Homo sapiens: one gene and its partner. The protein of the gene in region 2 interacts with the protein of the main gene of each other region in a pairwise test. Each region holds a gene or a part of one and is shown on either strand. Other genes may lie near its edges.

Region 1 (3,500 bases), on a different chromosome or scaffold from region 2:
GGAGATCTCCATTTGAGGGCAAGGAAGTGGGTGCAGACAGGTTGCTGGGTTATGCATGGACCTGTGTAACACTGGCAGGGTAATGGTGCTTGAGTGGTGCCGGCATAGGGGTGTGTGTGTATGTGTGCATGTGCATGTGCATGTGAGCACACATGTATCAGTATCTGCCAAATCTCTGCATATGGGCAGCATGCCTCAAGCAGGTCCCTGGCCCACAGAGTGAAATGATCCCCATCCCTTCCTCCCCCAGACCTGTGCACACCGATATGAGGCAAGGCAGCGAGTGGACCAGATCCTGGAGACGCGGGATATGATTGGTCGCTGCTTTGTGCTCAGCCAGGACCTGGCCATCCGGGATGAGTTGGATGGTGGGGAATGGAAGTTCTGTGAGGGACGCCCCCAAGGCCATGAACAATTTGGGTTCTGCCAGCAGGGCACAGCTGCCGCCTTCTCCCCTGATAGCCACTACCTCCTCTTTGGGGCCCCAGGAACCTATAATTGGAAGGGTGAGTCACTCCTCGGGAAGGGGAGAAGGGGACCAAAACCTCCTCTTACCTCAGAGACAGGGTTGGGGATGGCACATGGCCAAGCATGACCACATGTGCACTGCTGTATGGCCCCAGGGCACTGCCATGCCTTCCACCCCATTGAGCTAGTGCACACATGAATGGGGGGTGCCTCCTTTCCCTCGCACGGCCAAGTGTTCCTCAACATGCTGGCATGGGCCCCAAGTGCACGCTGGGCCTGCAGCTGGGGCCTGCATGCTCCAACACACTAGCCCACACCTCATCACTGCCATTCCCGTCTCCGCACGCTGCTGCTGGCTGAGCTGACACTCGGTGAGTGTGATGCCACATCTGGGGGACCCCAGGAAGCCTGGGTTGGGGACAGGGTGGGGAGAGGGCTAGAAAGAAGAGGCAGGGCTTCCCCGTGTGCCTGTCTAACTCAGTGTCCGGCCTGAGGGGTGTTCCTTGCGCCCTGCCCTGGGCACTAACAGGTCTGTCCTTGCAGGCACGGCCAGGGTGGAGCTCTGTGCACAGGGCTCAGCGGACCTGGCACACCTGGACGACGGTCCCTACGAGGCGGGGGGAGAGAAGGAGCAGGACCCCCGCCTCATCCCGGTCCCTGCCAACAGCTACTTTGGTAGGGACCTCTCCCCGGCCCAGAACTGCTCTAACCCTCTGCTCCTCTCTCTTGTCCTCTCTCTCCATGCTCCCATCCTTCTGTCTCTGTTTCTGTCTCTCACCTTGTCTCTCTCTGTCTTTCTGTCTCTGGCTGTGATCTCTCTGGTCTCTTTTTCTCTCTCCACCTCTTCTTCTTCCACCATTTTCTGGCCTTTCTGTGGCTCTGTCTCCCTACTCTGTGGCCCCTACTCTGGATGTCCCCTCCCTGGTGTCTCACCCCACCCCCCACAGGGTTGCTTTTTGTGACCAACATTGATAGCTCAGACCCCGACCAGCTGGTGTATAAAACTTTGGACCCTGCTGACCGGCTCCCAGGACCAGCCGGAGACTTGGCCCTCAATAGCTACTTAGGTTTGTAAGCTCCCACCTCCTGGACTCTAGGGGCATGGCCCAGCCTCCCCTCCTTCCCCAGGGAACTCGACCTTTGGTGCCTTATAATCTCCTCCTCCCCCAACACACACCCAGGGAGACATACATTGGGCCCAAATTGCAGAGAAGAGCTGGGTCCAATGATCAGGCCTAAGAGGAGGAGGCCCCCAGGGTGGTGGCCTCTGGGGCTGTGAGCCAGGGGTCTCCATGGAGGAAGATTCAGGTGGAATGAGAGGGCCAGGGCTGAGGATATTTTGGGAAGGACAGTCCTGTCTTCTAGGGGGACTTTCCCTGAGGGGATGGATGGTGGGCACATATTGAAGAAAGGGCTAATGTTGTTGGTAAGTCCCTCTCGTTGTCTCATCTGCATTCCTCTGCAGAGGAGGAGGAAACCAGGCCTGGGAGATGTTTGGGTGAAGCAGGCGCTCTCTCACTCCCCCTTGTCTCCCCCTCATCCATGTGAAGACTTCCCCTCCCTGCCAGGATGAGGGAGTTGGGGGAAAGAGGTGCACTGGGTGGGATTCGGGCCTGAGAGGGACCTCTAGCTCTTCTAGCTCCCTGGGTGTGGGCAGGGTGAGGCCACTGTGCTCAGCCTCCTACCTGGGCTCCTGGCCTTCTCAGCCATCACCTTTCTCTCTCTTGCCCAGTCCCTGAGGCTGACCTCACTGCACTTTTTGTGCCAAGCTTGTCTCTGGGCCTGGTGGGTGTGGGAGGCTGCCAGGCCCTGTGGGGAGGAAGAGCTATCCAGCTGTGGTGCTGATGACTTGGGGGGACCTATCTTTTGGCTCTTAACCTAGGGGAGGGGGCAGGGTGCAGGGGAGCTGTGACTTGGCTCTTAACCTGTAGGGAGGGGGCAGGGGCTGGGGGAGCTGTGACACACCCCAGCTTCTGAGTCTTGGGGTGAAGACTTAGGGGTAAGTCACCCTTCCCCCAGGCTTCTCTATTGACTCGGGGAAAGGTCTGGTGCGTGCAGAAGAGCTGAGCTTTGTGGCTGGAGCCCCCCGCGCCAACCACAAGGGTGCTGTGGTCATCCTGCGCAAGGACAGCGCCAGTCGCCTGGTGCCCGAGGTTATGCTGTCTGGGGAGCGCCTGACCTCCGGCTTTGGCTACTCACTGGCTGTGGCTGACCTCAACAGTGATGGGTGAGTGGGTAGAGGGCCGTGCCACCTGAGGGAGGCTGGGTCTAGTAGCCCCAGTCTGGCTGAGGCCACTTAGCCTCCTGCTGGCTCCTCTGGCCAGGGAGGACCCACACTGAATGTTTCCCTCTCTCCATAGCTGGCCAGACCTGATAGTGGGTGCCCCCTACTTCTTTGAGCGCCAAGAAGAGCTGGGGGGTGCTGTGTATGTGTACTTGAACCAGGGGGGTCACTGGGCTGGGATCTCCCCTCTCCGGCTCTGCGGCTCCCCTGACTCCATGTTCGGGATCAGCCTGGCTGTCCTGGGGGACCTCAACCAAGATGGCTTTCCAGGTGTGACGGGGAACTGGAAAGGCTCAGGGAGGGAGGGGCCACAGGAGGGATGGGGAAGCCCCTCAGAGGTCAGGGTGTGGTCTTCTGAGGACTCAGGGAGAGAGGGTCCCTGAGCTTATGTCTGAGCTGTACCATTTACCAGCTTTCTGACCTTGGCAAGTTCCTAACCTTTTTGCGTTAGTAATATCTGCAGGGAGTGGCCAAGAGGATTAAAGATGATGTATGTAGAGTGCCTGGGATTTTGTAGCCTCTCAATAAAATAGAAAACATACCTGAGTGACTGGGGGGAGTTGAGGCCTGGATCTTGTCTGCAAGGCCCCCAGCCAGCGTGACTGCCTTTTCCCTGTGCCCTGCAGATATTGCAGTGGGTGCCCCCTTTGATGGTGATGGGAAAGTCTTCATCTACCATGGGAGCAGCCTGGGGGTTGTCGCCAAACCTTCACAGGTGAGGGGAGTCGCTGGGATGAGGGAATGGGTG
Region 2 (4,372 bases):
ATGCTGCTATTTGCTTGGCGTCATCCTGGGCAGCACCTCAAAACCAGGCACAAGCCTCTCAGTTACACACACACACACACACACACACACCACCTTTAACATCCTGCAATCACATCTCCCAACCTGAAGGAATTACCTGATGGTTGGAATCTATATCCTTCTCTTAAGCAAAGATTCCCACAAAGTTCAAGGAAGAGAACGTTGGGTAAGAAAATTTTATTTCACAATGTAAAGGGTTATGTGAGACCCAACTGTATTCTATCTGAAGCATTAGAAGCCAACTGTAGTAAATGCATCTTACTTATATTCGATGCTGGCCAGAGGAGCTATTCTGCTTCCTTTAGAAGTTATGCTTTTTATTGTGGCTTGTGGTAACCATGTAACATGCAAGAGCAATGGTTTTCAGGAAGAAACTATTATGCCTTACAGCTTTTGCCCCAAATCACAAGAAAACTTGAACTATGTCATTAAACATCCCATAAATGCTGACAGAAGATAAAGGATATTTATTATATGAAATTGTCTACGCCCTCAGACTACAATTCCTGAATAGTTAGATGGTGACCATGTTCATCCTTCTGGATTAATGAAAACTTGGAAAGCAGTCAAAGCTGCCTGGGCCCTGGCTGGCTGGCTCTCCCTTCAGCCTGCTCCCCCCAGGAGCCCTGAGCATCTCCTTCTGCCATTGCCTGTACAGCTTGGAGGCTTTTCACATCTTGGAGAGCTTGATGTCATAAGTGACCATGTTCAAGTTGTCCCAGGCAAAGAGCTTCTTCTCCAGGGGGTTGTAGTCAATCATGCTGCTGTACTTATAGCGGTTCTTGAATGGGATGGTCAGGGTCTTGCTGATACCTGTGCCTGTGTCATAAGCAAAGTTGACGGTAGCATCTGCTGAGGTGTAGCTGCTGACGGTGTACAAGGTGCCACAGATGATGAAGGCATTGGCGACTGACTGCTTACGGATGTTTGTCTCCCAGGTTTGTTCGAGTTCCAGATTCTCTGGGTTCAGTTTGGAGAGGACAATGGCACCTTTGGCCTCATCGGTGCTGTAAATGACCCAGAGGCCTGCTTCATCCACAGCCAAGTCAATGTCCGTGTAGCCACCCCAAGAATACGGGAACTGTCCGTGGTAGCCAGCTCCAGGGATTTCCTTCTCAGCCTTCACTGTCTCGGTATTCAGCTCATATCTTATGACAGTTCTGGACTCAGCGCCCTGGAAATAGAGGCTCCCCGAGTACACCACAGCACCCGTGCTTTCCAGTGGCCTAGGCAGTATGTGAACCTTAGAAGGGTAGCCCTGCATAAACTGGCTGATGAGGTCATACTCAAAAACCTGGCGGACATCCGTGCCAACTGTGTCGATTCTCCACGTGGTCTCCTGGGTGTAGGGGTAGGTGGGCTTGGGGTCTCGCATCCACACACCATACTTGCCAGTAATTGTTTCTGCTGTTCTCAGCGTGAGAGGCTCTCCTACCCAAACTAGTTCTCCACATCCTGGTAAATTCAGAAAAGAAAACGAAGCACCACTTAATCCATAATCTTTCCAAACACAGACAATGATCATGCGGAAGCTTGGCAGAGCCAGTAGATGTGACAGCCCTGGAGACAAATCGTCTGGGTTTAAAGCTAGGCTCTACCACCCGCTGGCTGTGTGACTTTCAGTAAGTTACTTAGCTCTCTACGCCTCAGTTATCGCATTTGTAAAAGGGGATACTAATAGTGTTTTGGGTAGTAGGGCTGTTGTAAATTTTAAATGTAATTATATATGTTAAGTGCTTGGTATAGAGTAAATATATGGTAAATGCTATATGATCAATCTGTGTTTCATGTTATTGACAATTATTGCTATCACTGAGGGGCATGCATGGGAGTGGGAGCTATAAAATATTTAAAGTACAATTCACTCAGTATCAGTTGTAAGGATGAAAGTTGCACAGAGGGCTTCAACTGCATTTGTAATATTCTACTTAAGCTGGGCAGGGACCCATGGGTGTTCATTGTATTACTTATTGTGACTTTCATGCCTGGTTTATTTCATTACTATAAGGTAGGAGAGAGAAAAATCAACTCATAAGAATAATCTCCATACAACAAAGTTTTTCAAGCCCTGATGAGTCACATATTTCATACATCATTTTAATATAATAAACATGAAAATAATTATTTTTTGAGACAGGGTCTTGCACTGTTACCTAGGCTGGAGTGCAGTGGTGCAATCACAGTGCACTGCAGCCTCGACCTTCCAGGCTCAAGCACCCCTCCCATCTCAGCCTCCTGAGTTGCTGGGACTACAGGTGCCTGCTACCACACCTGGCTAATTTGGTTTAGAAAATAATTTTTTAAATGTAGTGAAGAGACGGTTGAAAATTTAGAGTTACCAGAATCACAACAGATGTCTGTATTTTTTTTTTTTTTGAGACAGAGTCTCACTCTGTCGCCCAGGCTGGAGGGCAGTGGTGTGATCTCGGCTCACTGCAACCTCTGCCTCCTGGGTTCAAGCAATTTTCCTGCCTCAGCCTCCCAAGTAGCTGGGATTACAGATGACTGCCACCATGCCTGGCTAATTTTTGTATTTTTAGTAGAGACAGTGTTTCACCATGTTGGCCAGGCTGGTCTTGAACTCCTGACCTCAAGTGATCCGCCCGCCTCAGCCTCCCAAAGTGCTGGGATTACAGGCATGAGCCACCATGCCTGGTCCAGATTTCTCTACTTTTAATGGCACCTTCGGTTCCCTCATAGAAGGTAGAAACACTTTGCTGCTCATATCTTAGAGAACCGTGTTTTAAATATTTCATAACCCCTACTTGCATGCATGCCCTTCAGTGCTAGTAATCATTGTCAATAACATGGATAGTCAAAGTTTCTGGAAATCACAGTATTAGTCATAAAGTTGGACTTTCAGGGAACACTTTGGAGAGAGCCAAACTGTACTTTTCCTAAGTGGCCAAAGTTCAGAAAACATACTGTTAGTAACAGATTGTGGCTGAGATGGTGCTTGGTGTATACCTGTCCCTAAAATAAAGATATGAAGGCGCTACTGAAAAATGTAACTTCTCAAGTATATCTAATTCTACATGACAATCAAGTGGATGAAATCAACACATCTCTCATCTTGCCCTGTGCAGCCCAGCCCAGCCTCCCAAGTGTGGGTGATAGGATAGAGGGCTTTGTTAGGGAAAGGCTGACTCCTGCAGACCTGCTCTGACAAGGGAACAGAGAGAGAGAGAGAGTTCTGTTCCTCTTCTCCTCCCCTCCCTCTGCTCCCAGGGAAGTTAATTTCCCCCTTGGGTGGGCATTTACCCTATACTGATTCTCTGAACACAGCACTAGACATGAATAAAGACCACGTGGGCACAAAAGGGAAGAAACTTAACTTCATACCGGTGTCTCCCTCTCCACTCCTGAGATAGCCAGATGGGCTCTCCTTCAAAATTCGGGAAGCAGGAACTTCAGTTAGCTCGGACTTCAGTTCCTGGAAGGCCAAAGTGTCCAAATTCCACGTAGAAACTGCATTAAAAGAAAGAGACAAAATTTTACTGTAAGAAAAAATGGCCCAAGGATTGACTATGTTGAGGATGACATTTAAATAGGCTGCCGGCCAGGCGTGGTGGCTCATGCCTGTAATCCCAGCACTTTGGGAGGCCGAGGCAGGCGGATCACCTGAGGTCAGGAGTTCGAGACCAGCCTGGCCAACATGGTGAAACCCTGTCTTTGCTAAAAACACAAAAGAATTAGCTGGATGTGGTGGCAGGTGCCTATAATCCCAGCTTCTTGGGAGACTGAGGCAGGAGAATTGCTTGAACCAAGGAGGGGGAGATTGCTGTGAGCCGAGACTACACTATTGTACTCCAGCTTGGGCAACAAGAAAGAAACTCTGTCTGAAAACTAACTAACTAAATAAATAGGCTCCCAAAGATATGGTGTTTGAGATTTGATTTTAGATAAGGACTGGGGATGGGTTGGGGGTCAGAGAAGGGAAGATAAAACATGATTGGACTGTGCTGATAACAGTTGGGCCTGAGTGATGGCTACATTGGAGTTCATTGTAGTCTCTCTACTTTTGTGAATATTTGAACAATTCCATAATTAAAAACCTCATAAATAATAAATTGCAGGGCAATGTGCCTACCTTAGAGTAGGGTATTCAAAATCAAATAATATTTTAATTCCACTAGAAGGGCTGGTTTGTGAATAGGTGAGTCGTAATTTCAGGAATATGGAGACAGTCCTCAGCATCTTCTTAGATGTCTGAATTTCAATAATTAAAAATTCATGAAAAATTAGCTGGGCATGGTGGTAAGCATCTGCAGTCCTAGGTACTTGGGAGGCTGATGTGGGAGGATTGCTTGAGCCCAGAAGTTCAAGGCTGCAG

What was found. Proteins that work in one complex are often made in the same cells at the same time.
Region 1: the proteins of MYOC (region 2) and ITGA7 interact in a two-hybrid assay, tested with the Homo sapiens proteins (one study listed by BioGRID).

Annotation. Positions count from the first base shown.
Region 1 is NC_000012.12:55,697,905-55,701,404, reverse strand, and holds part of ITGA7 (integrin alpha-7 isoform 2 precursor), read left to right. Parts: coding exon of another isoform or gene 1-26; exon of another isoform or gene 27-55; coding exon of another isoform or gene 56-79; intron 80-250; coding exon 251-506; intron 507-518; exon of another isoform or gene 519-839; intron 840-1,011; coding exon of another isoform or gene 1,012-1,143; exon of another isoform or gene 1,144-1,378; coding exon of another isoform or gene 1,379-1,415; coding exon 1,416-1,535; intron 1,536-2,487; coding exon 2,488-2,695; intron 2,696-2,828; coding exon 2,829-3,022; intron 3,023-3,378; coding exon 3,379-3,467; intron 3,468-3,500. UniProt on the Homo sapiens protein: Integrin alpha-7/beta-1 is the primary laminin receptor on skeletal myoblasts and adult myofibers.
Region 2 is NC_000001.11:171,635,216-171,639,587, forward strand, and holds the end of MYOC (myocilin precursor), read right to left. Parts: intron 3,508-4,372; coding exon 3,382-3,507; intron 1,495-3,381; coding exon 710-1,494; 3' UTR 202-709; downstream 1-201. UniProt on the Homo sapiens protein: Secreted glycoprotein regulating the activation of different signaling pathways in adjacent cells to control different processes including cell adhesion, cell-matrix adhesion, cytoskeleton organization and cell migration.